7 linked regions of the Homo sapiens genome follow. The protein of the gene in region 4 interacts with the protein of the main gene of each other region in a biochemical or structural test. Each region holds a gene or a part of one and is shown on either strand. Other genes may lie near its edges. The genes, in order: PPM1A, LEMD3, HDAC5, SMAD3, KAT2B, HDAC4 and CDK8.

Region 1 (4,217 bases), on a different chromosome or scaffold from region 4:
GTATATAATTGCTAGAAAAACATCTAAGCTAAATTTAGTTGGAGAGCTCTAGTGACTATAAAAATTAGATACTGACCTATTTTCACTACAATTATAGTACAAGCAAAATACTAAAAAGACATGGCATAGAACTATTTAGTTTATAAAGTTTTCTAATAATCTTTTAGCATTTACAATCTCAATTTGCCTCATCTGTTAACTAATTCAGATTTATCAGTTTTGGATAACTTGTCTTATCCAAGTTATCTATAGACAGATCTATAGACAGAAAGTGTCTTATCCAAGTTATCCAAAACTGAAGTGGATTAAATTCCTAGTTTGCTACTTATAAATCGCCGCATATTTGAGGATTTGGACTCAAACTAACCCAGAAAACAATAACTGACTTCCTGATCCAATCCATCCTTTTTTCTCTTCCTTAAAACTAATAAACAAAACACCTCACATAGAGCATCTACAAATGTTTGCTGATAACCTTGTATACTTAAGTTGAAAGAAAGGAAAAATATAACTTATTAAACATTTAAGATGGTAAAAGATTCATTTATATATAAATACATGGGGATTCTAAATATTTTACACATATGAAATGTCCCTGCTGAAAAAAATGACCAAAAGCATTTGCCTCTAACAGACTTCAGTTGATATAATCTAACATTTTTCAAAATAGAGTCACTCACTGAGTTCATGAATTGTGACATGCAATTTTTTTGTGTATGTAGGGAGATAGATGCTGAGGAAAGAGAGAAAAAAACCTTTTCAAGTGAAAGTTCTATTTAATAGCTTAAAAAATGTGTAACCACCTACCTCCTATACTTGAATAGCCACACCTCAAATCGCATGGCCCAAAATGAACTTCTCAACTACTGCCACTTCTTAGTTCCACATCTGAGGAAACAGATCTATCCTTAGTCATAAGCTCATAGAATCCTCTATTTCCCTTATCGCAGCATTTATCTGGTGAATTATCTCTCACTTTAGATTTTAAGATCCAGGAGGAAAGAGATTATGTCTTTTTTGTTCATATTTAACACATGACACTTGACGAATACATGAGACAGATGAATAACAGCCATTATACCTTGGCTTCTCCCTTGTCAACACTGATTATCTTCTATGCAGGAAAAAGTATTTTCAGAGAAGTTGGCCGGCCAACAAACTGTATCCTACCATTTTCCATCTATAGAATACATGGTTGTCTTTTATCCCTACAAAAATATCATAGTGGATTTCTAAAAAGAAAATATTGGACCCTAAAAGAAATCTACGGCTTAATCAAAACTTGATTTTCAGATTACTGTTCATCAATGACTTTAAAAAGTTTATCAACATCATTAGATACACACTCCCATTATTGAAAAATGGCACATAAGGAAGGGAACAAAAGAGAAAAAACATAGTTATGACTAAAAGCCCACACATTTTCTTTCCCTGAGCTATTTATTTATTAATCTGCTCATTCATTCAACATTCATGGATGGATGAACTTTTTCTAAAGTTTTCTCTACACAATAAGCCAAGTATAAAGTAATTCAGACACAAACGAATTTCTGGGAGCTGGGAAATCCATTGTCAATGCATTCAATGTAGTCTAGCCAAAAATATCTCTAACTTAATCTTGGAGTTTTACTACATAAAACAAGTAATACTATTTACACTTATAGAGCTACTTATTTTACTGACTGTAGCAAACCAGAAAAGATCACACTAGATGGCTGACTAGTTGAAACACCTGCTTACTGTATCAAGAAGCATTTACGCAGAAAGAGAAAATGAAGATGACAGATATGGACTAACAAAGGGTAAGCTGTGGGTTGGTCACAAAACAAAAACTGCCACTTCTAAGATTGGCCCCTTGGCAACCAAAACAGTCTTACAGGCTGTCAGAAAGGATAATACCCTACTGCTTTACAAAAAGTGAAAATTTTATTTCCTATCTACTTAACATTCTGAGGTATGATGGCATACTGCAAAGATGTTTTTCTAAAGCCTGGTAAGTTATGAGATTCTGTTTGGAAAAACAAAAACAAAAAAATATATAGCCATCCCTTATCTTTTATCATTCACATTTTCATTTCTGAATTTTGGTAATAAAGGTAAGCACACTTCATCTTTATACACACAGTACCAAATTATGATGTGATCCTACTAGTCATGATAAAGAAAAAGGTAGTACTAAGAATCCAAGACATTCAAAGTTGGTAATGAATTATATTCTTATTCTTTAAAACAGTACAATAGACAATTCTTGAATAACATATTCTTTAAAATAATTAAGCCACCTAAAGTATAACTAAAAAAAGAATGTTTACTTACATCCCTCCCTGAGGTGGTCATATTATAGATGAATACAAAACACCAGCCTAAATTTAAAGTGATTATACATGACCCATGCTTTCTCATAGTCTGCTGTATTTCCAGCTCACATTCAATTTTCTGTCATGTGTTCATCAGAAAATGAACAGGGAGACTATAAAAATTTAACAGTCATATATTGATAATCTCTTTAAATGAATGAAACAAGACCTGTTTTTAAGGAATTTATTTTCAATAAACATTGAAGTTACCATTTATAGTATAATCTCTATTGTAAACTCAGCTAGCTTGTGTTTAAGACTATCTTCTCAGACTCACTGAGAATTTCATTTGAATAAAGGATCTGTGAAATAATTTATATCAGTGGGTTGCAAAGTAGTAAACATGAATAAAATTTTAAGCCATAAGAAAAAAGTGTGTATGGCTTGTGGAACTAATTGTATTATGGCCATATCTTATGCTTTTTTAATATTAAAAAATGTAATAGCTCTTCTTGGGGAAAATTTCTAAAGGGAGCTAACATATGATAATATACTTTTCAAACTTAGTATACACTGCCACCTCAAATCCCAACTCAATCACAAGATTCACTCTCTGGATACAATGGAACAACAGTCATACCCTTCATGTACAAAGATTTTGACCCATCACAATGGCCAAGAGACTTACTTTCCGCAGTAGCAATGAAACCGCATGGATCAACAAATTATTTCTGCAAAGTCCAAGAACATGTATTAGGCTTCTGTTAATAGCTCTGAAACTCTTGGCAAATAACTGCTCTGTTTCAAATTTCCTCATCTGTTAAGATATAGGTAGTAACAGTATCTAGCTCATAGGGCTGCTATGAAGATTTAATGAGATAATAATTGAAAATCTATTGTAATAGTCCCTGGCACATAAGAGCTCAATAATGTTAGTTATCATTGTTAGTTGCTAACGTCAAGGCTAGGAAAACATAAGAGGAACACAAAGTATCAAGAGGTCTCATTAGCATTGTTCTCTAACAAATGGATCTAAGCCGGCACTGACTGACTATATGAAATTATCCATTTAAAAAGCCAATAAATTTTACTATGTATTTTCTTTTTTCTTCTTCTTTTTTTTTAGACGATGTCTTGCTCTGTTGCCAGGCTAGAATGCAGTGATGCAATCTTGGCTCACTGCAACCTGTGCCTCCCGGGTTCAAGCAATTCCCCTGCTCAGCCTCCTGGGTAGCTGGGACTACAGGCGGGTGGCCACCATGCCCGTGCCACCACGCCTGGCTAATTTTTTGTATTTTAGTAGAGACAAAGTTTCACCATGTTGGCCAGGATGGTCTCCATCTCCTGACCTTGTGATTCACCTGCCTCAGCCTCCCAAAGTGCTGGGATTACAGGCATAAGCCACCACACCTGGCTGGTATTTTCTAAACACTGAAAATAGTCTAGCATTTTGATAAGCTTGAAAGTCTAGCTTAGAGGTTTATTTGAACACAGAGTATGCATATTATTAGATACTTGTTGGGTTCAAATTAAATCAGCTGATAGTTATCTCTCTTCTTTAACACATCATCTAATTCCTGTGATTCCACAATTCCTCTCTGGTTAAAAGGACACAAAGTTCATGATAATATTTGCAAATGTAAAATACTCTGAAAAGAGATATGTGATTATAAATGTCCTGTTAACCCTCAAAGCCAAAATGTAGGAAGTTAAAATGAAGCTTGTAGGTCCAGGATCAGTCAACCTAGTCTTCTACATCAATATAAGAACACTGCCACACTTCAGATTTGTATAATCTTCACACTTAAATATCCAGGTTCAGAAAAAATAACATTCAGGAAGAGAGTCAGAAACGTCTGCTACGATAAAGCTTGTAACTACTTCTACTACCTCCTCCTACAACAATCACTTTCACTCCAG
Region 2 (4,217 bases), on a different chromosome or scaffold from region 4:
CTCTTATATTCCCAACTAAACTGTAAGCTGGTATAGGAACTATGTCACACTGATGCCTATCCACAGATCTTGGCACACAAGACGCCCTCCAGAAATATGTATTATTCCTAAAAGGGAAAAAATTCAGCATATTCATTGTGCTAACTTAACTTACACATCTATTCTTAAAGCTAATCATTTAAGGGTTCAAATAAGTTTGAATTTATTAATGAATTAAAGTATGTGCATTTTCAGAGTATAACTAATCCTATCTTTAGCAAGGGGTGTGCATGCCTTAAAAACTGTTATAACATAACCAGGTGTGGTAGTATGCATCTGTTGTCCCAATTATTCGGGAAGCAGAGGCGAGAAGACAGCTTGACTCCATAAATTTGAAGCTGCAGTGAGCTGTGATCACCCTACTTCACTCCAGCCTGAGTGACAGAAAAGATCCTGTCTCAAAAAAATCTTAAAAAACAAAAATTGTTATAACAGACCAACAGGGAAATCAGGTACAAGTTTCCACCTATGATCTGGTTTCTACAAAGGGATGTGCTCATATAAATCTTTGGAAAACTACATTTATCTTTTCTTTTAATTGTTGATAAGAAGCGAATTCAGGGCTTTTTCTTTAGACTATAAGTGGTTATTAGAAATAAATTATCCTCATATTGAACTCCAATTGTCATGTTTTCCCTTCCCTGTGTCTTTCAAGTAGTTAAAAAGCTTGTTAACATGAAAGTAGAATAATTAAAGTAAAATCCTTGCCAAATGTTTCTAAAATAAAAGCAGCCATGTTCTCATTTCAGTTTTGTTCAAGTAATCATTTTAATGTCAGTAGCTATAAAAAGGGGAGAAGTACCTATCAGATGAACAAGTCTTGAAAGTTTATTAGTGCATCCTCAGAGATTTAGATCCCATAGATTTAGAGCAGAGGTCTGCAAATTACAGCCCATGGGTCAAATCTGGCCTACTCTGGTTTTTATAAATGAAGTTTTACTGGAATACAGCCAAGCTCATTCACTTATGTAGTATTTATGGCTGCTTTCATGGTATAACATAACTGAGTGGTTGTGACAGAGGCAAACTAACCTACAAAGCCTAAAATATCCACTATCTGACCCTTCACAGAAAAAAAGCTTGTTGACCCTTACTCAAGGGGAAGGAATCTGTATCTTTAAAAGCACATCAGATTATGCTGATTTAGCTGGCCATGAACCATACTTGATAAAACAATGCTACAGAGATAGCTGTAGAAGCTTGTGTTAGCAATATCCCTAGCTAGCATAACTAGCATATACTTAACCTATCTCTGGGTGCTACAGCATACCAAATAAATGTCATTAGCTTGAAGTGTGTGAATGACAATCAAAGCAAAGAAGGCTTTTAGCGATATAATACAGAATTAAAAGCTTAAAAAATTGACCAGAATTAAGAACCCAATGTACAAAACAAAGAGAGATCAGAGGATGGGAAACTGTCAGGATCCTAAATACCTCCATTCAACCAGAGAAGTTCCATATTTACCTATAGGCTGCTACCAATAATCTGGTTTACACAAAAGTTCTGCTACATAGAAAAGTTTGAAAACTGCATTTTTCTTTTCTTATGCCTGCTTACAAGAATCCAAGTCTCTTCTTTCAGATTATATGTTTAAAAAAAAAAAAGAACTAAAAAAAGGTAATAGATAAGCTGCTACTGCAGTTTACATGTGCTAAACTTGATACTAATTAATCTATAATAAATTATTCCCATTTCGGACAAGTTGACTACCTTAGAGCTCTCAAAGAATTACTAAGAGCAGACTATGAGGAAAATGCAATTAATCCGGAGAGAAAATTACAGGAGAATAAATTTACTTTATCAAACAGAATGATACCTATACAACCAACAAAAGAAAATCTGCATTTGTATATTTAATCCAAGATTTTAGTTAATTCACTGCTTACCTAATTCCTCTGATACTTAAGCTTTCCAGATTTTTTGTTACCACTGATGCAATAAAGAAATTTGATCAACTTTATAACTATATTATATATATATATTACCTCTAATACAGATGGCAGGCAGGAAAAAAGCCTTCATTAAATACATATGTAAAAATCAAAAATCACTCTGTATAGGTAATGAAAACTTCTAAAGAAAAATATTTCACAAATATAACACTGGACTTGGAAAAATATTTTCTACTAATAACATGCTACATACATTTTTCAAAACATTTTTAGCAACTATAAAAGTTAAAACAATTACCTGCAAGCTGTGCCAATCGATCATGAAGCTTATATAATGTGTTCATCATAAGAGTTTTTTCACTTTCCTAAAATTAAGAGAAGTTATTATGAAATACCCAATTACAAGAAAAAAAACACCAAATAATTCTTAATCAAAAAAAAAAAAACAGTAAATTTAAAATCACAGAAGCCACATAATCTGAAAGACAAATTCACATTTAAGTAATGGGCACCATATTTTTAAGAAACCTTAATCTAAGACTCTAAATTATTACTCTAAATATTTCACTTTCTGGAGAACGATTTAAAAATTGGCATAAGGTTAGTGCTAAAAAAAAGGTCTCACAGACAATAAACTCCATCAATCACCAAAGCAATGTTCCCAATCCCCCTCTGCACAGTGTATTCTTATGTAAACTGTTCATATGAGACTGTTTTCTTCATCAAGGCTGCCCTTCATGTCTTGTTTTAATCTAACTCAACCACATAAAACTAAGGGAATGAGTACTGGCACGTTGACTGATACTCAGTCCTCTCCTAGGCTCCCAAGGTGCCCCTGTATAAACTTATGAACTGTTAAAATGAAACAAACATTAAATAAACATCTACTAGGAGTTAAGAACTGTTCTCTCAGCAAAGCGAGAGACCCAGTGAACAAGATGGTTCCTGTACTCAAGGGCAAAAAACATATTAAATGTTATACAACTGCAGAGTAATACAGAAGATTCTCTTCCCTCCTTCTTCTGTAAATATAGAAGGAGGGAAGGAGGGAACAGAATTTATGGAACAGAATATTTGAGTTTGATTTAAAAGGAAAAACTAACAGATCAGCATCCTAGGCAATGGGAAAGACCCTGAGCAAGGGCATGAAGGCATGAAAGCATTGGTTATATTTCTTACATAACCAGTAGCCCTTGTTTGATTCTGCAAACTACTAGAAAAGTTGTTTAGTATTAACTACCAGACAGCCTTGGATAGCAAGACAGAGAGTTTGACTTCATTCTGAAAATTTAGCAGGAGAGTAAAACAGACTTGTGCATCAGGAATACTACCCGGGCCAGAATGTACAATGTATAGGCTGGCTCGGAAGCAGAAATAATTGTATGAAAAGAGTCCAGATAGAGAATTATTGCAATGGTACAGCCTAAGTACCTGCCAAGTAGTCTAAAGCAACAAGACCTCCAATTTAAGAGCAATTACGATCAGGAGGGATCGACATAAATGATGGAGGGTAGGGTGGGGAGGGGGTAATAGCTTATTGCACTACCTAAAATAAGTCCATGATTTATCAGGGGGCTCTGTCTTTATTACTTTCTTTCTTCCTGAAGTTTCCAACAAAACAGATTTACTGGATGAACAGATCATGGAGCAAATTGAAGCAAGATATAAAAGACTGGAAAAGTAACATTTATATGTCTAATAACATGCAACCTCATCCATTTATTTTGTGGTGTATGTGCAGGGACAGAAGAGAACATGTTTGCACACTATGGGTGGCATGCTTTTGTCATTGCAGCTTTAATCGGTTATACTAAGAGGAAAACTCATCAAAAGTGCCAAGATCCTACCACCAGAATACCTGGTTTTATGTCAGACGGTTGACTGAGATAAGTTACTTATTCATTCAGTTTACTACTTGCCTTCCTACGTATATATATATATTTTTGCCTCAATTTTATCTTAATCAGATTCTGAATCAAGCCAGTCCTTATCTTCACATAAGATCAAAAATTCAAACTGCAAAATTAGACATCAAAAAGTAACAGTAGGCTGGGTGTGGTGGCTCATGCCTGTAATCTCAGCACTTTGGGAGGCCGAGGAGGGTGGAACATGAGCTGAGCGTGGTGGCATGCACCTGTAGTCCCAGCTACTTGGGAGGCTGAGGCAGGAGAATCACTTGAACCCAGGAGGTGGAGGTTGCAGTGAGCGGAGGTCATGCCACTGTACTCCAGCCTGGTGACAGAGCGAGAATCCATCTCAAAAAAAAAGTAAGAGCAGGGCTGA
Region 3 (4,217 bases), on a different chromosome or scaffold from region 4:
CTTACCCCCAGGCCCGGCACCTGTGATCTCAACAGCTCTCTTCTTAAAGGTGCTAATAACAGTCCCATCCTTGCGACGCAGGAGGGGACTGCTTCTCCGCTCAGCCACCTTCTGTTTTAGCCTTGAACGCACTTTCAAGTTGGGTTCAGAGGCTGGAGAGAAGGTAACCGAGGTTCAGATACGCGCACAGCAGCACACATCTGCAGCTGAGCCCACTGGGGTCAGGGCTGACACTGCCACAAGCCCACCTCTGCCTCCCAGGAGCCATATTCTGGGAGGCCAGGTGGGGGACTCACTCACCTGTTTTGCGGAGGGGGAAGTCGTCTCGACTGTCGTAGGGCCCAGGCAAAGGCAGTTTGTAGGAGGGAGGCGTCCCAGGGGGGCCGCTCTGGGGAGGGGAACTCTGGTCCAAAGAAGCATGGTGGGCTCCCCTGGGGTGGGGGGGGGGTGGGGATGGAAGCAGATCTAGGTTATCACCCAGTCTGCTGGACCTGCCACCTGGCAATCTACATTTATGAAAAATCGTTTGTATATAGGAAGAGGACGTGGATCTTGGGGAAGGAATGAGGAAATAAACCAGGGATGGGGGTCCTGTCTCTAAGGAGAGATTGCAGGGCCCGTATATGGGCACGGGGAAGAAGCCCCTTGCCATCCTATAGCCAGGCAGCCCCTGAGCGGCTCACCTATGCCCACCCATGCCTGCCCAGGGCCATTACCAGCATTTGGGGTGCTGTGGGAGGGAATGGTTGAGGCCGCCTGGTGTGGGCTCCTTTGACTTCGACAAGAGGAATTCCTGGAGCCTCAGCTTTACCTCAGTGCTGGCAATGGCACCTGCAGGACAGGGCACAACTGACCTGGCTGCTTGGGGCCAGACCCCCCATGGCAGGGGCAGGCATCACGGGCGGGGCCCTACGAGGTCCCAGGAGGCCCTGCCTTACTCTCTTTGCTCTTCTCCTTGTTCCGCAGGATGAGCAGCTGCTGCTCCAGCCGCTGCTTCTCCAGCTCTTCCTGCCGCTGCTGCTCCCGCTGCCGCTGCTGCTCCAGCTCCTGCTGCCGCTTGGCTGCCAGCATCTCCTGCTGCTGCTTGGCTGCCAGCATCTCCTGCTGCTGCTGCAGGGGCATGGGAACGGAGGCACAAGTGAGCCAGGCCCGGGCGGGGATCGGAGGTCTGGGCGGCCCCCCGCACCCCCCTCGCTCACCTTGAGGTGCTTCTGCAGCTGGACCTCATGCTGCCTTGTCAGGTGGTCATGCTGTTTCTGGAACTCAGCGAACAGGAGCTGCTTCTGCAGCTGCTGCTGCTGCTTGAGCGCCAGGAGCTCCTGCTGCAGTTGCTGCTCCCGCAGTGTGGGGTCCACAGAGCCCACCAGAGCCCCCCGTAGCTCCACAGGGCTGGGGCTGCCTCCACCCCCACCCCCCATGGAACTGGGCATGGCTCTTGGCAGCACCGGCTTCACCTCCACTGTGGGCAGAAGAGACAGGAAGGAGTTAGTGGGCCCAGCCCCAGACTCCAGTCATGCCTGAGGCCCAAAGGCTACCACGCAGGATTCTAGGAGACCCAAAGAGAACAGAGACAGAGAGGAAGTCAAATCCCTCTGCTCCATGGATGCAACATTTTACCTTAATTAAATGAGGCTGAAGCCATGAACTTCAATAGGAAAATACAGGCTGAGCACGGTGGCTCACACCTGTAATCTCAGGTTAGTTTGGGAGGCTGAGGCAGGCAGATCACCTGAGGCCAGGAGTTTGAGACCAGCCTGGTCAACATGATGAAACCCCCTCACTACTAAAAATACAAAAATTATTTGGGCGTGATGGTGCACACCTGTAATCCCAGCCACTCAGATGGCTGAGGCATGGGAATCTCTTGAACCCCGGGAGGCGGAGGTTGCAGTGAGCCAAGATCATGCAACTGCACTCTAGCCTGGGTGACAGAGCAAGACTGTCTCCAGAAAAAAAAAAAACAAAAAACAAAAAGGGGGAGGCCGGGCGCGGTGGCTCTTGCCTGTAATCCCAGCACTTTGGGAGGCTGAGGCGGGTAGATCACGAGGTCAGGAGATCAAGACCATCCTGACTAACATGGTGAAATCCTGTCTCTACTAAAAACAAAAAAAATTAGCTGGGCGTGGTGGCACACGCCTGTAGTCCCAGCTACTCAGGAGGCTGAGGCAGGAGAATCGCTTGAACCCTGGAGGTGGAGGTTGCAGTGAGCCAAGATCGCACCACTGCACTCCAGCCTGGGCGACAGAGCGAGCCTCCATCTCAAAAAAATAAAGAAAATGTGCATAAGCATGAAGCTGTACCTGACAGATTGTGACTACTCGACGCATTTTATGTATCTGTGTGTGTGTGTGTATATATATGTGTGTACGTATGTGTGTGTATATATATATATACACACACACATACATATGTGTGTGTATTTATCTCTCTACCTATATATATATCAGAGACAAGGTCTTGCTCTGTCGCCCAGGCTGGAATGCAATGGCATGATCGTGGCTCATGACAGCCTCGACCTCAAGCAACCCTCCCACCTCAGCTTCCCAAGTAGCAGGGATTACAGGAGCATGCCAATGCACCAGGCTAATTTTTAATTTTTTAGTAGAGACAGGGTCTCACTATGTTGCCCAGGCTGAATTAAACTCCTAGGCTCAAGCGATCCTCCCACCTCAGCCTCCCAAAGTGCTGGGATTATAGGCGTGAGCCACTGCCCAGCCTTCAACACATAATATTATCATTGATAGTCAACATCTCTGGGCATTTTACAATGACTCATTTAAATATCACAGTTACCCTATGACTTAGATGCTATTATTACCCCATTTTACTGATGAGGAAACTGAGGTTTAGAGAAGTTTAAGTAGCAACCAGACACAGCTAGGTGATCCAATAACTAGAATATGAGTCCAAATCCTAAGCTTTTAACCACTGTGCCCGCTCCCATTTCTCAACACCGTGCCCCATGCAAAGCCTCATACTAGAAGAGAAACTGAGGCACAGAGGTTGGTTCTAGGACTGACAGTGCCCTTGGTAACCCCAGGAGAGGCTGGTGGAGACCTTCTGGATATCTCTACCCTCTGTCCCCTTCTGGGGCCTCATCCCTATCTGGGGCAGACTGGGCAGGAGGGAGAGGCTGTGGGAATGGGGGTGGGGTGGGAACAGGAGGCCTCGGGGAAAGGGGGTGCAGGGCTGCACCAAGCCAGGGACAGGAGGGGGCTGGGAGTCAAGACTCGCTTCCTTTGCTGGATTATCTCCTTTCAACAGTTTTATTGTAATTACCCTGAAAATGCCGCTATATATAGAGTGAGCCAAACAGCAGCTGTGCCTGGGGGGAGGGGGAATAAGAGGATGGGCGGGCAGGCAGCAGGGAGGAGGTGGGAGGAGGAGACAGGAAAGGAAAGGGAATCAGACAGGAAGAAGGGTAACAGCAGGGGGAGGGCAGGAGCTTCGGCAGAGATCTCAGAACTCTGGTCTTACGGAGAACCGGCTGGGGAGAGGAAGGCTGCTGGGGAGGGGAAGGCAGTGGAGGGCCTGCTGGGTTCCAAGACCTTGGGTCCAGTCCCCACATGGACAATGGGCCGAGTGGCTCAGGGAGTGCACGAAGTTCCAATGGGCTTATGGGAGGGCTAGGTCTCCACTTCTTTGTACCTACACACAGTTCTCAGGTCACTGCATGTCACTCCTCACCACTGCCCTGTGGTTGCCAGGACAACTGGGCAAACACCACACCAGCAGGGAGCCCCAAGCCCAGCCCAAGCCCCACAAAGTCTCCAGCCAGGAAGGGGAAGGCAGGATACCACTGCCTGGGAAGGCGGAAGTGAGAGAGGCAGGCCAACCCATTCCTGTTTCTCTTCTACTTCTTTCTCCAAAGAAAGCCCTCACTCTCCTCGCTACAGCCCAGGGAGGTCACGAGGGGCTGGGAAGACTCCTGTGGCAAAGTGGCCCACTCCAGCCCAGGCCTGAGAAAAAAGGACCCCGAAATCCTTCTGGCTACCAGTATCTTCTGCCTTCATGAGCTGGCCTCTCTCCAGACCACCCCCCAGCATTAAGAGGCGAGAGAGGGAAAAAAAAAACAAAAAACAAGTTTTGGTTTTTTTTTGTTTTTTTTTTTTTTGGAGATGGAGTTTTGCTCTTGTCATCCAGGCTGGAGTGCAGTGGCACAATCTCGGCTCACTGCAACCTCTGCCTCCTGGGTTCAAGCAGTTTTCCTGCCTCAG
Region 4 (3,500 bases):
CTGCCTGCCTGGATAGGACTGAATACAAAAGTAGATTTTTTTTTTCATCTTTTTTTTCAGTTAGGGAAACCCAGTTGCTTGGGTGGATCCAGACAAAATGGATTTTCATCCTTGGATTTTGTGCCCACGCCTCTGGGTCACCTTGTGTCCCTTGGCAACAGCTGCTGCTGTTTTGGTCGTGGGCAGAAAACTAAAGGCCACGTCTTGGGGAGGTGGCTGGTTTGGCCCTGTGCTGGTGATATCAATGTGTCTGCTAAGCCCCATAGATTGCAGTGTTGCTTGTCAAATTGTCTGCTTTCACCACAACTGCCTTTTAGTTTGGAAAGTAGAGAAAGGAAAATGTTTAACTTAGTCATTCCCCCTGTGTGTGGGGGGTTGGTCACTGGGTGCTTAAAAACACTCTGCAAGATCTGGACTCCGGGGTTTAAGGAGCCCTCAGTCTAAGGAGATTAAGCCAAGTGTGTTTTGGCTAATATATAATCATGAGCAGCAACAGCAACATTTGGCAATTAGAGCTGTATACTAGGGACTTCCAGACCACAGGCTTGCTTCTCTGTGACACCAGCTCTGACTTGTTTCAATTATCAGGGGAGCTGGCGTGATACACACTTATCGACATAAAGAAGGTGAAAGAGATTGGTGCCAAGGAAGTGGTAAGAGCTTCATTTAGATACACCAACAAAGGGGCTGTCAGGATACTCTGAGGTCTGGCAGGATTGGCAGAATTTACACAAGTTTTATAACAGCCTCTCATGCCTCACCTGCTTGAGTACCTGAGTAAAGCTGCAGGTATCTTCCTTGCCAGTTTATAAGAATGGAATCAAAGCATTTGCCGCTGAATGAGAGTTGGTGTGTGAGCGTTATATGAGGAATAAGGAGCTCGGCACACTTAAAACTTAGTTTTCTGGTAGACACTGGTAGCTTGTACTTCCACCAGGGAATCCATGCCTTGGCCTCGTTGTTGGGAGCTAGACCAAGCTTAAAGCATTGCTTGTTTGGAAGGGAATTTGGGCTTTCTTGTGTCAGAGCACCCAGTCCAGTGGAAAATTGGAGAATTGAAGCAAACACTAGGTCTGACACACAGCATCTACTCCCTCCCTGTGAATCTGATGTTTTTTTTTTGGAGACAGAGTCTTGCCTTGTTGCCCAGGCTGGAGCGCAGTGGCATGATCTTAGCTCACTGCAACCTCTGCCTCCCGGTTCAAGCGATTCTTGTGCCTCAGCCTCCCGAGTAGCTGGGATTACAGGCGCCCGCCACCACGCCCAGCTAATTTTTGTATTTTTAGTAGAGACGGGGTTTCACCATGTTGGTCAGGCTGGTGTTGAACTCCTGACCTTGTGATCTGCCCGCCTTGGCCTGCCAAAGTGCTGGGATTACAGGCGTGAGCCACCGCGCCTCACCGAATCTGATCTTTTACTGTAGCCTCCTCTTATTATCTCCTTGACTTTTGCCAGGGTACTCTCACTTTGAGAAAGGAAAAAGATCCTAGTCTTTAACATGCCTTTTCCAGATTTCTGGGGATAGACCTATTACTAAGGCTGTAGAGGCCTCCCTTTTCTCTTGGCTGCACTTCAGAGCACCATGCCCGTGTGGCCCATTGGAAGCAAGCCCCCTTCCAGCTGCTAGGGAGGTGGTCCATTATCTCTTTGCTCTTGTTAAGTTTGATTAGGGGAGTTCCACGTAGGGCCTGAGAAGAGGAGGTGCCTGCAGGACAATAGGTAGCTGATGAGGGATCTGACTCAGCTGCAGCTGAACCTAGGCGCCACTTGACGTTCCCTGGGAACATTTAGAACCTTGGAACATGCTGCTTGCACCTGGGAGTGGAATGTTTGCAGACAGCCCCTCTGTTGTTACAGGGCTGGATTTTGTTGATTTATTGATATTTATTGGACCCTCCCATGTCTGAGTCAATTTTTTAGGTACCAGAGGAGGATGCAGAGACACGTTTGAGAAGCTCCCAGCCTGTGAGAAGCTTACACATCAGTAAGGGAAACATGAATAGGGCATTATTTGAGTATCTAACTGCTATCTCTTTCTCATTCCCAGCTACCAGTAGAAATATGAGATCTAGTATGGATGATTTTTGATGGGGGCGGGCGTTGATGTGCCTTTTAAATATTGTAGAATTCACTATGTTAGGAAATAAAATAATGACAGGCATCTGTTTTTTTCTGAAAAAAACACAAAATTCAGGTCCTGTACCTGCCATTTTACCACCTGCAAGGATTTGGGAATCCATTTAAGTTTCACAGCTTTTATATCTGCACCTGTCAAGTCAGGATGAGATAAGTTCTGTGGAAGTGTTTTGTGAACCAGAGAATTTGACAGGTATGTTACGTTTATACTTCATTCTGCATCATTCATTCATTATTGAATTATTCAGTCCTTCGTTGAGAACATACTACAATGACCACAGCAGGGTCCCTGTACTCAAAGAGCTCCCTGTCTAGAGCGGGAGACAGACTTGCCCAAAGGTATGAGGCATGAGCTGCAGCTGAGGAATGTGCTAAGTGCCCAGCAATGTGGAAACACAGTTAATTCTGTGGGAGGAGGTGTAGAGAGGAGGAGAACCCATGAGAGGTGGAAAACTAAGAAGGGGACAAGGGTTATCCAAAGGAAGCTTTTTGGACTGCAGTATGATGTTGGGAACTTTTTGGTACATGGGGATAGTTCCCTATAAGAATGAGGACGTCTTTATCCTCTTTTACTAAACTGAGTGCTGCTATAAATATGTTACCTTGTAACTGGCACTGAACAGCTAGTGACTTGGGTGCTATATTTTACTCCACTGTAAAGCATTTTCTCTTTGAAGTAAAAAGTAAGTTAGTACTGCAAACTGAAATTCAGGTTTCCTTGGTGGGAACAGGGACTTTAGATGTATCAGCTCAGAATATGACAGGGAGTGTTAATAAAAAGTGGACAACTTGGCTGGGCACGGTGGCTCACACCTGTAATCCCAAGCACTTTGGGAGGCCGAGGCAGGCGGATCACGAGGTCAGGAGATCACAACCATTCTGGCTAACACGGTGAAACCCTGTCTCTACTAAAAATACAAAAAAATTAGCCGAGCTTGGTGGCAGGCGCCTGTAGTCCCAGCTACTCGGGAGGCTGAGGCAAGAGAATGGCGTGAACCCAGGAGGCGGAGCTTGCAGTGAGCCGAGATCGCGCCACTGCACTCCAGCCTGGGCGACAGAGCGAGACTCTGTCTCAAAATAAATAAATAAATAAATGAAAAGTGGACAACTTGCAGATGGTTGTTTTGAAATTCAAAGCTTCGGTGTGACCTAGCTTCTCATTTCTCTAGTTAACACTTGCTGAGAATAAATCCTAGACGCCTGAGTTTCTGAATGAACATAGGTGCTTTTAGTGGTATATTTTTTAAAAAGTCTTTGCAAGGGTGAAGTTTTAAATGACAATTTTAATAACAGAAAAATATGAATACAGTCGCATTTAATTCTGATGAGAAATGCAAGAAGTTGATGAAATTGAAAGAATTTGT
Region 5 (4,217 bases), on a different chromosome or scaffold from region 4:
GGGATCTAGGTTGCATGCTCCTTATGAGAATCTAACTAATGCCTGATGATCTGAGCTGGAACAGTTTCATCCCAAAATCATAGCCCTAATCTGACCCGTGGAAAAATTGTCTTCCGTGAAACCAGTCCCTGGTGCCAAAAAGGTTGGAGACCATTGGAGTGAGAGGACTATTCCCAGAAAGTCCTTAACTCCACTTTGAACCTTCTCTGGACATGGCACAGAGAGATCTTCCCAAGCTCTGCAGGCCTTAGTGAGAAGCCCCACATTCTGCTCTTCTTCTAAGACCTTGGGTTTACCCTTACCTTGACTTGCTCATTTGAGGTTACAGCACAGAAGACAATCTCTGTGAATCCTTGAGATGGGAACATACGGAAACAGATACCACCAATAACACGGCCATCTTTAATTAAAGCAAGGGTTTTGTGTTTCCTGAAAGAATAAGATTATGTCAAAGTTTTACCTATCCTAGTTATATAAATATACTTTTTGGGGTGTTCCTTATTAACCAACTAAGAAAGAGGGACATGTCCTAAGTTTCTATAGAAACTTCCTTCATGTAGCCCCTATCTCGCTAGACCATCCTTTTATCTGAACTTTTTAGAGCTAGGTCGCCTGCACAAGATGTCATCAGCACTCCCATCAGAACAAAATACCAGTCACCTAAGAAGTGCCTGAGGTTTACAAATAGAGAACAGAGTATGTGCAGAGGTGCTCTGGAACTGGCACAGCCAGTGCCAAGGAGGGGTCAGGGAGAGCAGGAAGTCATGGACAAACATGGTATGTGTCTCTGAAGAGTTAAGTCTTACTCCAAAATATTACAGAAACATTATGAAAAAGAATTTAAAATTTACATATACAATTTGCAAAATTCCGCATTATGGAATCCTTCCCTCTGTCTAAAGCATCACTCTGAATTGTCACAGGCATGGATCACAGTCCCCATAGGCTACTGGGCTATGTATGTTAAAATAAATTCAATTAGAGAAGTTTAGTTCTTTAGGGTTTCGTGGGTTTTTTTTTTTTTTTTTTTGAAATGGAGTTTCGCTCTGTTGCCCAGGCTGGAGTGCAATGGCACGGTCTCGGCTCACCACAACCTCCGCCTCCTGGGTTCAAGCAATTCTCCTGCCTCAGCCTCCCAAGTAGCCGTGATTACAGGCATGTGTCACCAGGCCTGGCTAATTTTGTATTTTTAGTAGAGACGGGGTTTCTCCATGTTGGTCAGGCTGGTCACAAACTCTCAACCTCAGGTGATCCTCCCACCTCAGCCTCCCAAAATGCTGGGATTACAGGCATGAGCCACCATGCCCGGCCTAGTTTTTTGTTTTTTTTTTTTAAGCAATGGATTTTCAAAGTTAACCTGTCTTATATCCCAATAATTGCCCACAGACCTGGGCAATAATGGCACCTAGTTAAGATACCAAAACCAATATTTTGATTATGAAGAAAGCAGAACATCTTAGTGTTACATTCTCTCACTGCTATAAAGAATGAAGCACAGGAGAGTCATCAGCAATGTAAAATATAAAGTTTCATCATCATTAACAAGAAAATTTGTAAATTGTTGAAAATTACTCTTAGCACTTTCAGACATGAAAATCAGCTTGGTGAAGCTCTGTATCCACAGCAAGACAGGTGCAGTAGTATTCGGTGGATGACTATGGCTGACTTTCACTATCTAAGCAGTTCCTCTTTCATTTAAAAAGGAAATAAGGAAGAAGGAACAGAAAGTACCACTTACGGGTCAAAGACGAGCCGTGTGATGTATTCTTTTGGCATTCGGGGCAGCTGGTGGGAGAAAACGTTCTGTAGGCCAACCAGCCACATCAGGATCTTCTTGTTTGGTTTCTGGTTGAGGGAATTGCCAACCACGTGAAATTCAATTACACCCCTGCGCTCTTCCAACCTTGCCGCCTCATCCCTGGCCGAGTGTGCTGACAGAAAATTGGTCTGAGATGCAAGAGACAGGAAAAAATTACACAGAGCTATTCTCTCAAGACAGTGGGGATGGGACACATCCAAGCTTCTCATCTTTGTTCTAATAAGATACACATTTGTGGATTTTCAGAGTCCTAAATACACATGTGTGCACACATACACACAGAGACACATACACATACAAGTTATGAAGACAAGACAGAAAAGGCAGGTAAAGCATTTTGAGAAATTGGAGTATTATATGTGTACACGGATGATATTCAGTGTAGATTAGGGGCCAGCAAAGTTTTCTGTGAAGGGCCAGATAGAAAATATTTTAGACGTTGTGAGCCATAAGGTGTTTGTCACAACTACTCCTTCTTCTGCTATAATGCAAAAGCATCCACAGACAATATGTTAAAGAATGGGTGCAGTACTGTTCCAATAAAACTTTATTTAAAAATACAGTAAGCAGACAAAATGTGGCCTGTGGGTTATAGTTTGCCAACCTCTGGCTTCAAGGAATCCTCTCCAGCTGAGCTTTAAGGACCCTTGAGATGACAGATTCAAATTCTCATTACAGGCCCAATAGTAGCACTCATGTATATATTCTTTTTTTTTTTTTTTTTTTCTGAGACGGAGTCTCGCTCTTTCGCCCAGGCCAGACTGCAGTGGCGCTATCTCAGCTCACTGCAAGCTCCGCCTCCCGGGTTCATGCCATTCTCCTGCCTCAGCCTCTGGAGCCTGCCACGGCGCCCAGCTAATTTTTTGTATTTTTTAGTAGAGACGGGGTTTCACCGTGTTAGCCAAGATGGTCTCGATCTCCTGACCTCGTGATCTGCCCGCCTCGGCCTCCCAAAGTGCTGGGATTACAGGCTGAGCCACCGCGCCCGGCCTCATGTATATATTCTTAACACCTCTTTTTAAAGAACAGTTTTCTTTCCAGAGAATATCTGTTGACCTACACTCAACCATAGCTGGAAGCACAACCATGTGCCAGCACTTATGCTCCCCATCTTATTTAATCTGCCTAGTGGTTTGCAAGTAGATGCTCCACAAACAGCTCTTCAAGGAAGGAAGGCCCTAACTGGTGACACTTCATCTCATTAGTCCAGAACTGGCTATCCAGGTAACCAGGTGCCATGCTAGTCAACTTCAAGCTACCAACATATGGAACAACCAGCTCACAAAACTCCTGAAAATTTAACAATTTTCTTGTGCATTCCAGTACAAGCCAGCTCTAGTACACTACTAAATATTAATATATCCAAAATATTTTCAAACATGTGACTGCATCCTGATGTAGTTTGAATGTGTGACCCCTCCAAATCTCATGCTGAAATGCAATCTCCAATGTTGGAGGTGGGGCCTAGTGGGAAGTGTTGGATCATCAGGGCAGACCCCTCATGAATGGCCTAGCACCATCCCCTTGTTGATGAATGAGTTATTGCTCAGTTAGTTCATATGAGATTTGGTGGTTTAAAGGGGTCTGGCTCCTCCTCCTCACTCTCTTGTTCCCTCTCTCACCATGTGATGTGCCTGCTCCCACTTCACCCTGCACCATGAGTATAAGTTCCCTGAGGCCTCCCCAGAAGCTGAGCAGATGCTGATGCCATTCTTGTACAGTCTGTGGAACTGTGAGCCAATTAAAGCTCTTTTTTAAAAAAATAAATTACCCAGTCTCAGGTATTTCTTTGTAGCAATGCAATAGACTAGTACAAATCCCCATTTTATAGCTGAAAAAAACCTAAACTCAGCTAATCTGTAATGTTACTAAATCCCTAAAAAACTATAGTCTTAAGCCCTCACAGACTGGACATCTAGGAGGAAATGGAAAGATCAATTTTAGGAAGAGATTTTTCTATTACAACATTCTGGTTCTCTGAAGTATCCTCAATGTCATAAAATAAATATTTAAAGAAACATGACAAATTGAAAATTAACACTGTAATATAATCTCCAAGCCATTTCTTCATTTCCTGGAAGCTGTCAGAAATGTCTTAAGACAGGTATGTCTTAAGAAATGTCATTGCCTTGCATGCCCTCAGATGCAAGGCAATGAGATGACAGCAGCATTTTTACCAAAAATGCCTTACTTGAATCTAATCCTTAGTAAACAATCAACAAATCCAAAAAGAGGGACCTTATACAAAACTAGCGACCAAGACTCTTCACCAATGGCAGTGCTGCAAAAGACCAAAACAAGGCTGGGGAGTTGTTTTAAAGGAGACTAAACAAATGAAGAGATAAGAATTAAATGCAATGCACAATCCCTAACTGATCCTTCAACAACAACAAAGGTT
Region 6 (4,217 bases), on a different chromosome or scaffold from region 4:
GCCAGTGCCGCCCTGCCAGGACCTTCTGTGACAATGAGAACATTCAGGGGACAGCCGTGGGCCGTGCACTGGATGTGGTGCACATGTGACTGAGAAACTGAATTCTAATTCTGACTTATTTATTTAACAGCTCCCCGTGGCTGGTGGCTCCTGACCTGGCCAGTACTGCTCTAGACAGCGTGGGGGCCTCCAGGCCTTCAAGGAGAGTCCGGTGGATACAGGAGGACAGACCGGAGGGGAGGAACCTGCACAGGAGGCTTCTTCCCACAAGAAGATGGGGCAATCCCAGCGGGTTCCAAATGAGGGCCCTGCTCATGGCGGGGCTGGGGGAGGGCCCCTGAGACACTGAGGACGGACAGGGGCTGGCTGGGGGAGTGAGAGAGCATGGGAGGTGGCAGGTTAAGAACAAGGCAATGACTACAACAATGATGCCAACACCTGCAGGGGCACATGAGTGCACAGCCCACTTAACCCTCATCAGGCTCACGGGGGCGGACCGCTTAGTATCCCCACTTCCTAGATGGGAAAACAAGGCACACAGAGCATAAGCGGCTTCCCAGGGTCATGGAGCAGGAGAAAGCTGGGACAGAGGCGGCTGTGTGGCTGCACTACGCTGCACACGTGACACTGGCTCCGAGGCTCCCTGCCAGGGGGTTTGCAGGATGAGCTGCTGGCAACCTGGGGAGGCTGTGCAGGAGAGAAGGGGCTTGCAGGGTTTTGGAGGTGGCGGCATAGGACTGGAGGGGCTTGCTGGGCACAGGCGTAAAGCAAGGCCAGAGCAAGCTGGGCAACCATGCATGGGCCCCCTGGTGGCACAGAGCCTGGGCAGGGCACGGTGGGCAGGTCCCCATGCCAACGAGCAAGCTGCACCTGGGAGGAAAAGAGGGATGAGCGCACACAGGGAAGAAGCAACGCCGAGTTCAGTGCGTTTCTCAGAGAGGTGAGACCCATGCACACTCGATATCCAGGTTCTATCAAAAAGGCTGTTTTCCAAAAACCTGATACACAAGATTACGCATGCTATTTAATCGTGCAGAATAAACTGATTTAGAGAAGGAAAGAAGATAAGTGACAAACATCTCTGACGAAGTGAATCCCAGGAATCCTGAAGATCAGGCACATTTTACGTTTTTAAAGACAGGCGAGAAACTCAGGTGTCCTTCACTACCCACACTCGTGCCAGCTGATCTAGAGCATCCAAGAGACTCAGACGCAACCTCAGATACATTCCTCCAGAGAGATCCGCGTGCCTGCCACTGTGGCCGCAGCTCAGAGAGGCACTGTGAGGGCTGCCCCCTCCCTCGTTACACCACGGGCTCCTCTGCTCTGGACAGGCAGGGACACGAATTCAAGCTTCTGGAGAAACAAACAGAAAGGGGCTCAGGCACAAAACAAAGATTGCGCCATTTGGCTTCTGGGCAAAGAAGGAATAAGAAGGAATCCTCTCTGTCTAAACAGAGACACATGGGCAGCACAAAACAAGAAAACACCAAAATCCACCAGACTAGTCAAGCCAGAGGCCCAAGCCCACCCAAGCCAGCCCCTAGCCCCACGCATCCTGCAGCGCAGCCTCCTACAACACGCCAAGCCCCTGAGTTTTCACCAAGTTCACTGCCAGAGTTTCACAGGTGCAGCTCTGAGGGTATTTCAGCTTTCAATTGGCAACAACAGGTTTCCAGGAAGCCAAACACAAAGCTATGAAGATGTACAACGATGACCCGCACGGCAAGGGGGTAGGTAGCTGCTCCCTCATTTATTTATTTTTGAGACGGAGTCTCGCTCTGTTGCCCAGGCTGGAGTGCAGTGCCACCATCTCGGGTCACTATAACCTCTGCCTTCCAATTTCAAGCAATTCTCCTGCCTCAGCCTCCCAAGTAGCTGGGATTACAGGTGTGCGCCACCACGCCCAGCTAATTTTTGTATTTTTAGTAGAGACGGGGTTTCACCATGTTAGTCAGGCTGGTCTTGAACTCCTGACCTCACGTGATCCGCCTGCCTCGGCCTCCCAAACTGCTGGGATTACAGGTGTCAGTCACCGTGTCCGGCCGGTGTGCCCTCATTTCTGAAGTGACACTTTCACATTGCTGTTGCTATGTAATTTCATAAGGACGTTCCCATTTTCCTCTAAATTGTATTTTTCTAAATGTAACCACTCCCCCAGACAGTGCACATTTGTAAAAGTTCGCTAACACAAACTGACCACAAGAGTCGGTTCTGGGCTTCCAGCGCTGGCTCAGCTTGGTCCAGACAGAAACCCAAATCGCAAGAGCCGGTGGCCTCTCCCAAAAGGTGAGAAAGGGGAAGTGACTTCTGTTTCCACTCCATCTACCTGACTCTGGGAGTGAGGCATGGATTTTCACTGCAGTCACGGTGGCTACATCACGTGATGGGGATGTGTGTTTGGGAACTGTGGGGGTGGGACAGGCGTGCATTCCTGTCTCCTCCAAAGGCAGGCGAAGGCGGGGCACCATCCAGAGCGTGGGCAGCCTCAGAGCCTGGCTGCACCCAGGCCCATTTGTGCTCACCTGTGACGAGGGGTGCTTGTGCCGGCGGCTGCTCCAGTAAGACCATGTGCTGCAGAAGAGGGCTGTGCGCTGCCCCTCCGTCCCGCTCCAAGGGCGAGGTGCTCAGGTAGGGAGTGAGGTGGGTGCCGGGGAAAAGGGAGAGCCTCTGCTGGAGGGCGGGAAGGGTGAGTCTCTCGGCGTCCTGCTGGCCCGCCGTGCCCTGGAAAGCACAGCCAGGATGCTCGGGTGGAAGGACCCATCACCACCACCCCACACCACACGGACCCACGGGGGCTGACTTACCGCAGAGGGGCCGGTGGCAGGCAGGCCCAGCGTGATGTTGGGCAAGGATGGCGATGTGTAGAGGGGAAGTGGAGCGGCCGAGCCTTCTCGTGCCACAAGTCTGTGCGCCAAACTCGTCTGGGGACAGAACACACGATGACCATCACAGTCTGTCACGGCCAAACATCAGCAATATACACCAAGAAAAACAACGATGAAAACACCTGCACTGAATTCTGATATATGAGCGTAAACGTACATGTAACAAATGAGACAGCAATGAGAGCATGAGATTTCAACACGTGCCACAACATGAAAGCACAATTCACCACTCCAGTTTCCTCCTCCCGATACGAGTTCTTCTTCTGTCACCTTGTCCAGCATCATCTCGTTGATTTCTATTCAGTTTGATTATTTACCACAGAACAGTTAGAAGGAAATCTAGGCTAATATAGTTTACAATGCCGTTTTGCAGTTTCTAGGATAATATAGTTTACAATGCTTTTTTGTAGTTGGCAATGTCTTTCCAGACATAACATCAAAGGCAGAAAACAAAAAGGAAATAACATTTAACTGTACATTTAAAAATAACTATAAGGGTATGATTGGATTGTTTGTTACACAAAGGATAAGCACCGGAGAGGATGGACATCCCACACTTCGCATGACGTGATTATTACAAATTGCATGCCTGTATCAAAACATCTCATGTACCCCACAAATATATACATTATGTACCCACAAAAATTAAAAATAAAGAGAAAATCATAAAACAACTGCCTCTACGAAAGGTGGGCAATGATGACAATACTGGCCATGTATGAGGCAGACGAGGGTCAGCACAGAGAGCTTGCAAATCAAACAACTAACAGTGAGAAAAGCACGCGGTGAGGACCAGTGACGGCAGAGCTCAGGAAGGGGAAGGCGCTCAGGAAAACACATCATGGTCATCAAAAAAGGTATTCTGAAACCCAACAAATTGGCAAACACTTTTGAAACATGGTAATACCATCTTGGCCTAGAGGAACGGCGAACACTGTTGGGTGAATCACAAATCAGTTAGTGGCACCCTTTCTGCAGGACAATTTGGCAATCTATGTCAAAGGCCTTCAAAATCTGTCTAACCTTTGATGCTGGAGCTCCACTCTTGGGATGTAACGTTAAGAAATAAGGAGATGGCCTGATGCCCATGAAGCCTCCGCTGCAGGGCCGAGCACCCAGCAGGCATGGCAGAGCTATGCGGCTTCCCCGACACCTTGGTGTTAACAGAACGGAGGGGCATTGCACACCGGGATGCTCTGGGGGTTGGGAACGATCTAGCTGATTACTTGGACACTTGTTTATGATACATTAAGTTAGAAAAACAGGTTATAGATCATGTACCTTTTAAAGAATGGGCTTGGATAAAGCAAACACAAGCCAGGAGTAAAG
Region 7 (4,217 bases), on a different chromosome or scaffold from region 4:
TAGGAGAGGTAAGGTAATTAATCAATTTCATATATATTTCTTCATGTACACTTTCATTAGAGTATTACAAGTGACTTTTTTTACCAATGTTTTAAAATGACAAATCCTACTGTCATTTTCTTTATATTCCAGGGCTACATAACAAATGCAAAATATACATACCATGAAATCTCACCAACGCCTAAGTGATTTTTAAAAATAACTATTTTTATTGCGACTGCCTTGTTACCCTCTGCTGCCTAACCCCTACCAATTCACTTCAACATTCCAATTAAAATAGATAAAGGAGTGGGTTTTAGTAGGCTAAATTATCATTTGTTTTTTATGAAAATGAACATTAAAAATATTTATTTGGCTTAAATATTATTAAGATGATGATAAAGCTAATGAACTAGTTATATGCACTGTACAATATTACCCACAATAAAATTTGCTGAAGTATAATCATTGTACCTACATGTAAAATTAAATATTACAAACTAGCAGCTAGAAATCACATTGAGTGAAATATTATACTATCTTCTATGCTCTACTGTGGTTTATCACAAATCTTGTTTATAAACCAGCCTGGAAAATGCCTTAAGTTTAAATTATATGACTTTATTTCTTATGAGGCTCAGCATAGTGAGTGTTCAATTTAATACTGGCCACGCTGATTTAACAGGGTTGATCTGATTAGATTTCTTTTAAAATAGAAGAACAGAAGAACCAAAGATTTAAAAAAAAAGAAGAAATTAATAACCAGCATGAACTTTGGAAAGAGTTTCATAAAAGAGAGAAAATTTCATGTATACATAATAAAAAGCATAGCCATGCTAATTTAGTAAATATAGATTAGTATGCAAATCAATACAATGTTTAAAGACATTATTAAATATCATTTAAAAAGCAGTTCACAGGAGTATAGTAATTCTTAATGAATTAACACAAGGTAATGTTAGATGTTTAGTTTACTTGTTTCTTAAACTATAATCTGTATTAACAGATGTTCTCTATACAGATTGATAAGAATGTCAATTTTGTTACTATGTTTCAAAATTACTTTGGCTATCCTATTATAGATTTTCTATATATATATCTCAAAGTTTTATCTGCAAGGTAACGTTTCAGATTTTTAAAAAATATATAAATGTTATATTTAATAAAAGAGCAAATTTTATAGTTACCTTAGAGTTCCTCAAATACCAATTTAAAAAATAATCTGCTTAGTAAACTGCAAAATACTGAGGCTGGTGTTTGTATTTCAGCTACTCAGACAAGATAAAATTAAGTTCTTATTTTACAGTAATTTTTTTCAATATAGCATCATTTTCTGCAATGCATTAGATAAACTAATAAACTGGCTGGGCTCAGTGGCTCAGGCCTGTAATCTCAGCACTTTGGGAGGCCGAGGTGGGCAGATCACCTGACATCAGGAGTTAAGAGACCAGCCTGGCCAACATGGTGAAACCCTGTCTCTACTAAAAATACAAAAATTAGCCGGGCTGGAGTGCAACAGTGCAAACAGGACCCACTGCAGCCTCGACTTCCTGAGCTTCAGCCCCATGAACAGCTGGGACCACAGCATGTGCCACTGAGCCCAGCTAATTTTTTTTATTTTTTGCAGAGACAGGGTCTTGCCATGTGACCCAGGCTTGTCTCAAACACTTTGGCTCAAGTGATCTTCCTGTCTTGGCCTCCCAAAGTGTTGGGACTACAGGTGTGACCCACTACACTTGGCCTAAAACTATTCTTATCATAGGTCAGAAAACAAAGAACTAAAAGTCCCAAGAGATATTAAAATTTATTTTCACACGAATCTTATTTTGTAATAGAGCTCTCATCCACAAAAAATTCCTCCAATGCAAGATTATGCCCAATTCAAGTAAGTACAATACAGTCATGCATCACTTAATGAAGGGATACATTCTGAAAAATGTGTCGTTAGGCAATTTTGCAGTTGTGTAAACATCACAGACTGTACTTACACAAACCTAGATGATAGACTCTACTACAAACCTAGGCTATATGTTATAGCCTCCTGCTCCTAGGCTACAAACCTGTACATGTTACTGTACTGAATAAGGAAGGCAATTGTGACACAATAGTAAATAAGTGTGTTATCTAAACATATGTAAACATAGAAAAGGTACAGTAACAATATGGTACTATAATCTTAGGAGACCACTATCATATATGCAGTCCCTAGTTGACAATAACATTATATGGCGCATGACTATACTGTATTGAACTACTGCCACTGAAAATAAGAATTAGGATATTAAATTCAATTGTGAATAGTTAATAATTAATAACAGTTTCCTACATTTGTATATTTATAAAACTTTTCAAATACAAGATTGTTCCTCAGAAAAACGTTGTTAAAAAAGGCAAGAAAGTATTACATTTTACAGATGGGGTAAACTACAGCTTCAAAGCCATTAAAAGACTTGCTTAATGCTATACGACAAATAATGGTAGAACTATTAGATCTCTCCAAAGATAGCATATTCGTCCTCCTACATGAGGATACCACCTTCTCATTTTATGTTCCCTTTATACAACGAAATAAAAGGAAATATGCTACTTTTCTATTTTAGAGCAAAATTTTATATATATTAGTTACTTTTTATTTTATCAAAAAACTATATGAAGCAATATTGAATAGTTGTTGAACACTCTTTAGATTCTATTGTTTTCTTTAGTATCTGTTAAAAGATCAAAGTGACAATATTGAAAAGTAATAATACAAAGTCAAATACTCTAGCCTTCGTCATGCCACCAACCACACTCTATGAGGTTACTTTTATTTTAAAAACATAAGTCTCATAATAAGCAGAACACCTAACTGTTTTTAGTTACTCTTAACAATCCCTGACTGTTTGCTCATGTCTGCCAGCAATTCACCTTACCCAGAGGTCATGTTCAGCATAGTCAAACAGAAGCCACACCTTCCTATCAGCATGAGACAGAAACACCTTTTGAAGAGAAATGACGTTTGGATGCTTAAGCTCTCGAAGTAACTGCAAAACAAAGGAGATGCATTAACTATTTCTGTCACAAAAATAATGTAAAAAACCCCACACCATTTGTAATTCAAAGGCAATACAAACCCACAGGTAAACAATCTTAAACATCTAATAAGCACCCACACAATTCTGAGACGGATACTTCAGTAACAAATGAGAAGATATCTGTGAGGAAAAGACACTGAACAGGTATTATCTGAGTAAATCTATTTTGTTGTTGTTTGGTTGGTTATTTTAATTTTTTGATTGTGGTAAAATATATCTAACATAAAAAGACCATTTTAATCATTTTTAAGTGTACAATTCAGTGGCATCCTATAAGTATATTCACAATGTTCTGCGATCACCACCACTATCCATTTTAGAATTTTTTTTGTCATCCCAAACAGAAACTCTGAATCCATTAAACCAGCGGTTCCCAACCTTTTTGGCATCAGAAACCATTTTTGAGGAAGACAAATTTTCCACGGATAATGGGGTGGAGGTGCAGGGCGGGGGCTGGGGGAAGGGGCAGATGGTGGATGGTTTCAAGATGAAACCGTTTCACCTCAGATCATTCATTAGGCATTAGATTCTCATAAGGAGCATGCAACCTAGATCCTTCACATGCGCAGTTCACAATAGTGTTCAAGCTCCTATGAGAATCTAATGCCACTGCTAATCTGACAGGAGGCAGAGCTCAGGTGGTAATGCTCGCTTGCCTGTGGCTCACCTCCTGCTGTACGGCCCAATTCCTAACGTACCGGTGCTGACGCAGGGACCCCTGCGTTACACAATAATCCCACCGCCTTTTTCCCCAAGGCTCTGGTAACCTCTACTCTACTATCTGTCCCTAAGAATCTTCCTAATCTAGATATTTCATGTAAGTGGAACCATACAATATGTATCCTTTCATGCCAGGCTTATTTCACTTAGCCTATTTCATTCTTTATGGATAAATATACTCCACTCTATGCATATCTATATATATATCTATATAGATATATATATAGATATCACATTTTGTTTATCCATTCATCTGTTGATGTTCATGGATTGTTTTCACCTCTGGTTATTGTGATTAATGCTGCTATGAACAGTGGTATACACTATCTGATGAAAGTCCCTGCTTTCAATGCTTTGAGCATAAACCTAAAAGTGGAAATCCTGGATCAAATGATTGCTCTGTGTTTAACTTTCTGAGAAACCACCAAACTTGCAGCTGTACCA

The links.
Region 1: the proteins of SMAD3 (region 4) and PPM1A form a complex in vitro, tested with the Homo sapiens proteins (one study listed by IntAct).
Region 2: the proteins of SMAD3 (region 4) and LEMD3 form a complex in vitro, tested with the Homo sapiens proteins (one study listed by BioGRID).
Region 3: the proteins of SMAD3 (region 4) and HDAC5 form a complex in vitro, tested with the Homo sapiens proteins (one study listed by BioGRID).
Region 5: the proteins of SMAD3 (region 4) and KAT2B form a complex in vitro, tested with the Homo sapiens proteins (one study listed by BioGRID).
Region 6: the proteins of SMAD3 (region 4) and HDAC4 form a complex in vitro, tested with the Homo sapiens proteins (one study listed by BioGRID).
Region 7: of the proteins of SMAD3 (region 4) and CDK8, one has a biochemical effect on the other in vitro, tested with the Homo sapiens proteins (one study listed by BioGRID).

Annotation. Positions count from the first base shown.
Region 1 is NC_000014.9:60,255,635-60,259,851, reverse strand, and holds part of PPM1A (protein phosphatase 1A), read right to left. Parts: intron 3,029-4,217; exon of another isoform or gene 2,986-3,028; intron 889-2,985; exon of another isoform or gene 1-888. UniProt on the Homo sapiens protein: Enzyme with a broad specificity. Negatively regulates TGF-beta signaling through dephosphorylating SMAD2 and SMAD3, resulting in their dissociation from SMAD4, nuclear export of the SMADs and termination of the TGF-beta-mediated signaling.
Region 2 is NC_000012.12:65,214,059-65,218,275, reverse strand, and holds part of LEMD3 (inner nuclear membrane protein Man1), read right to left. Parts: intron 2,300-4,217; coding exon 2,233-2,299; intron 1-2,232.
Region 3 is NC_000017.11:44,092,376-44,096,592, forward strand, and holds part of HDAC5 (histone deacetylase 5), read right to left. Parts: intron 1,460-4,217; coding exon 1,200-1,459; intron 1,111-1,199; coding exon 939-1,110; intron 832-938; coding exon 717-831; intron 432-716; coding exon 301-431; intron 153-300; coding exon 6-152; intron 1-5. UniProt on the Homo sapiens protein: Responsible for the deacetylation of lysine residues on the N-terminal part of the core histones (H2A, H2B, H3 and H4).
Region 4 is NC_000015.10:67,068,602-67,072,101, forward strand, and holds part of SMAD3 (mothers against decapentaplegic homolog 3), read left to right. Parts: intron 1-3,500. UniProt on the Homo sapiens protein: Receptor-regulated SMAD (R-SMAD) that is an intracellular signal transducer and transcriptional modulator activated by TGF-beta (transforming growth factor) and activin type 1 receptor kinases.
Region 5 is NC_000003.12:20,123,635-20,127,851, reverse strand, and holds part of KAT2B (histone acetyltransferase KAT2B), read right to left. Parts: intron 1,948-4,217; coding exon 1,739-1,947; intron 430-1,738; coding exon 303-429; intron 1-302. UniProt on the Homo sapiens protein: Functions as a histone acetyltransferase (HAT) to promote transcriptional activation. Has significant histone acetyltransferase activity with core histones (H3 and H4), and also with nucleosome core particles.
Region 6 is NC_000002.12:239,131,720-239,135,936, forward strand, and holds part of HDAC4 (histone deacetylase 4), read right to left. Parts: intron 2,925-4,217; coding exon 2,808-2,924; intron 2,725-2,807; coding exon 2,526-2,724; intron 2,520-2,525; exon of another isoform or gene 1-2,519. UniProt on the Homo sapiens protein: Responsible for the deacetylation of lysine residues on the N-terminal part of the core histones (H2A, H2B, H3 and H4).
Region 7 is NC_000013.11:26,347,857-26,352,073, reverse strand, and holds part of CDK8 (cyclin-dependent kinase 8), read right to left. Parts: intron 3,003-4,217; coding exon 2,892-3,002; intron 1-2,891.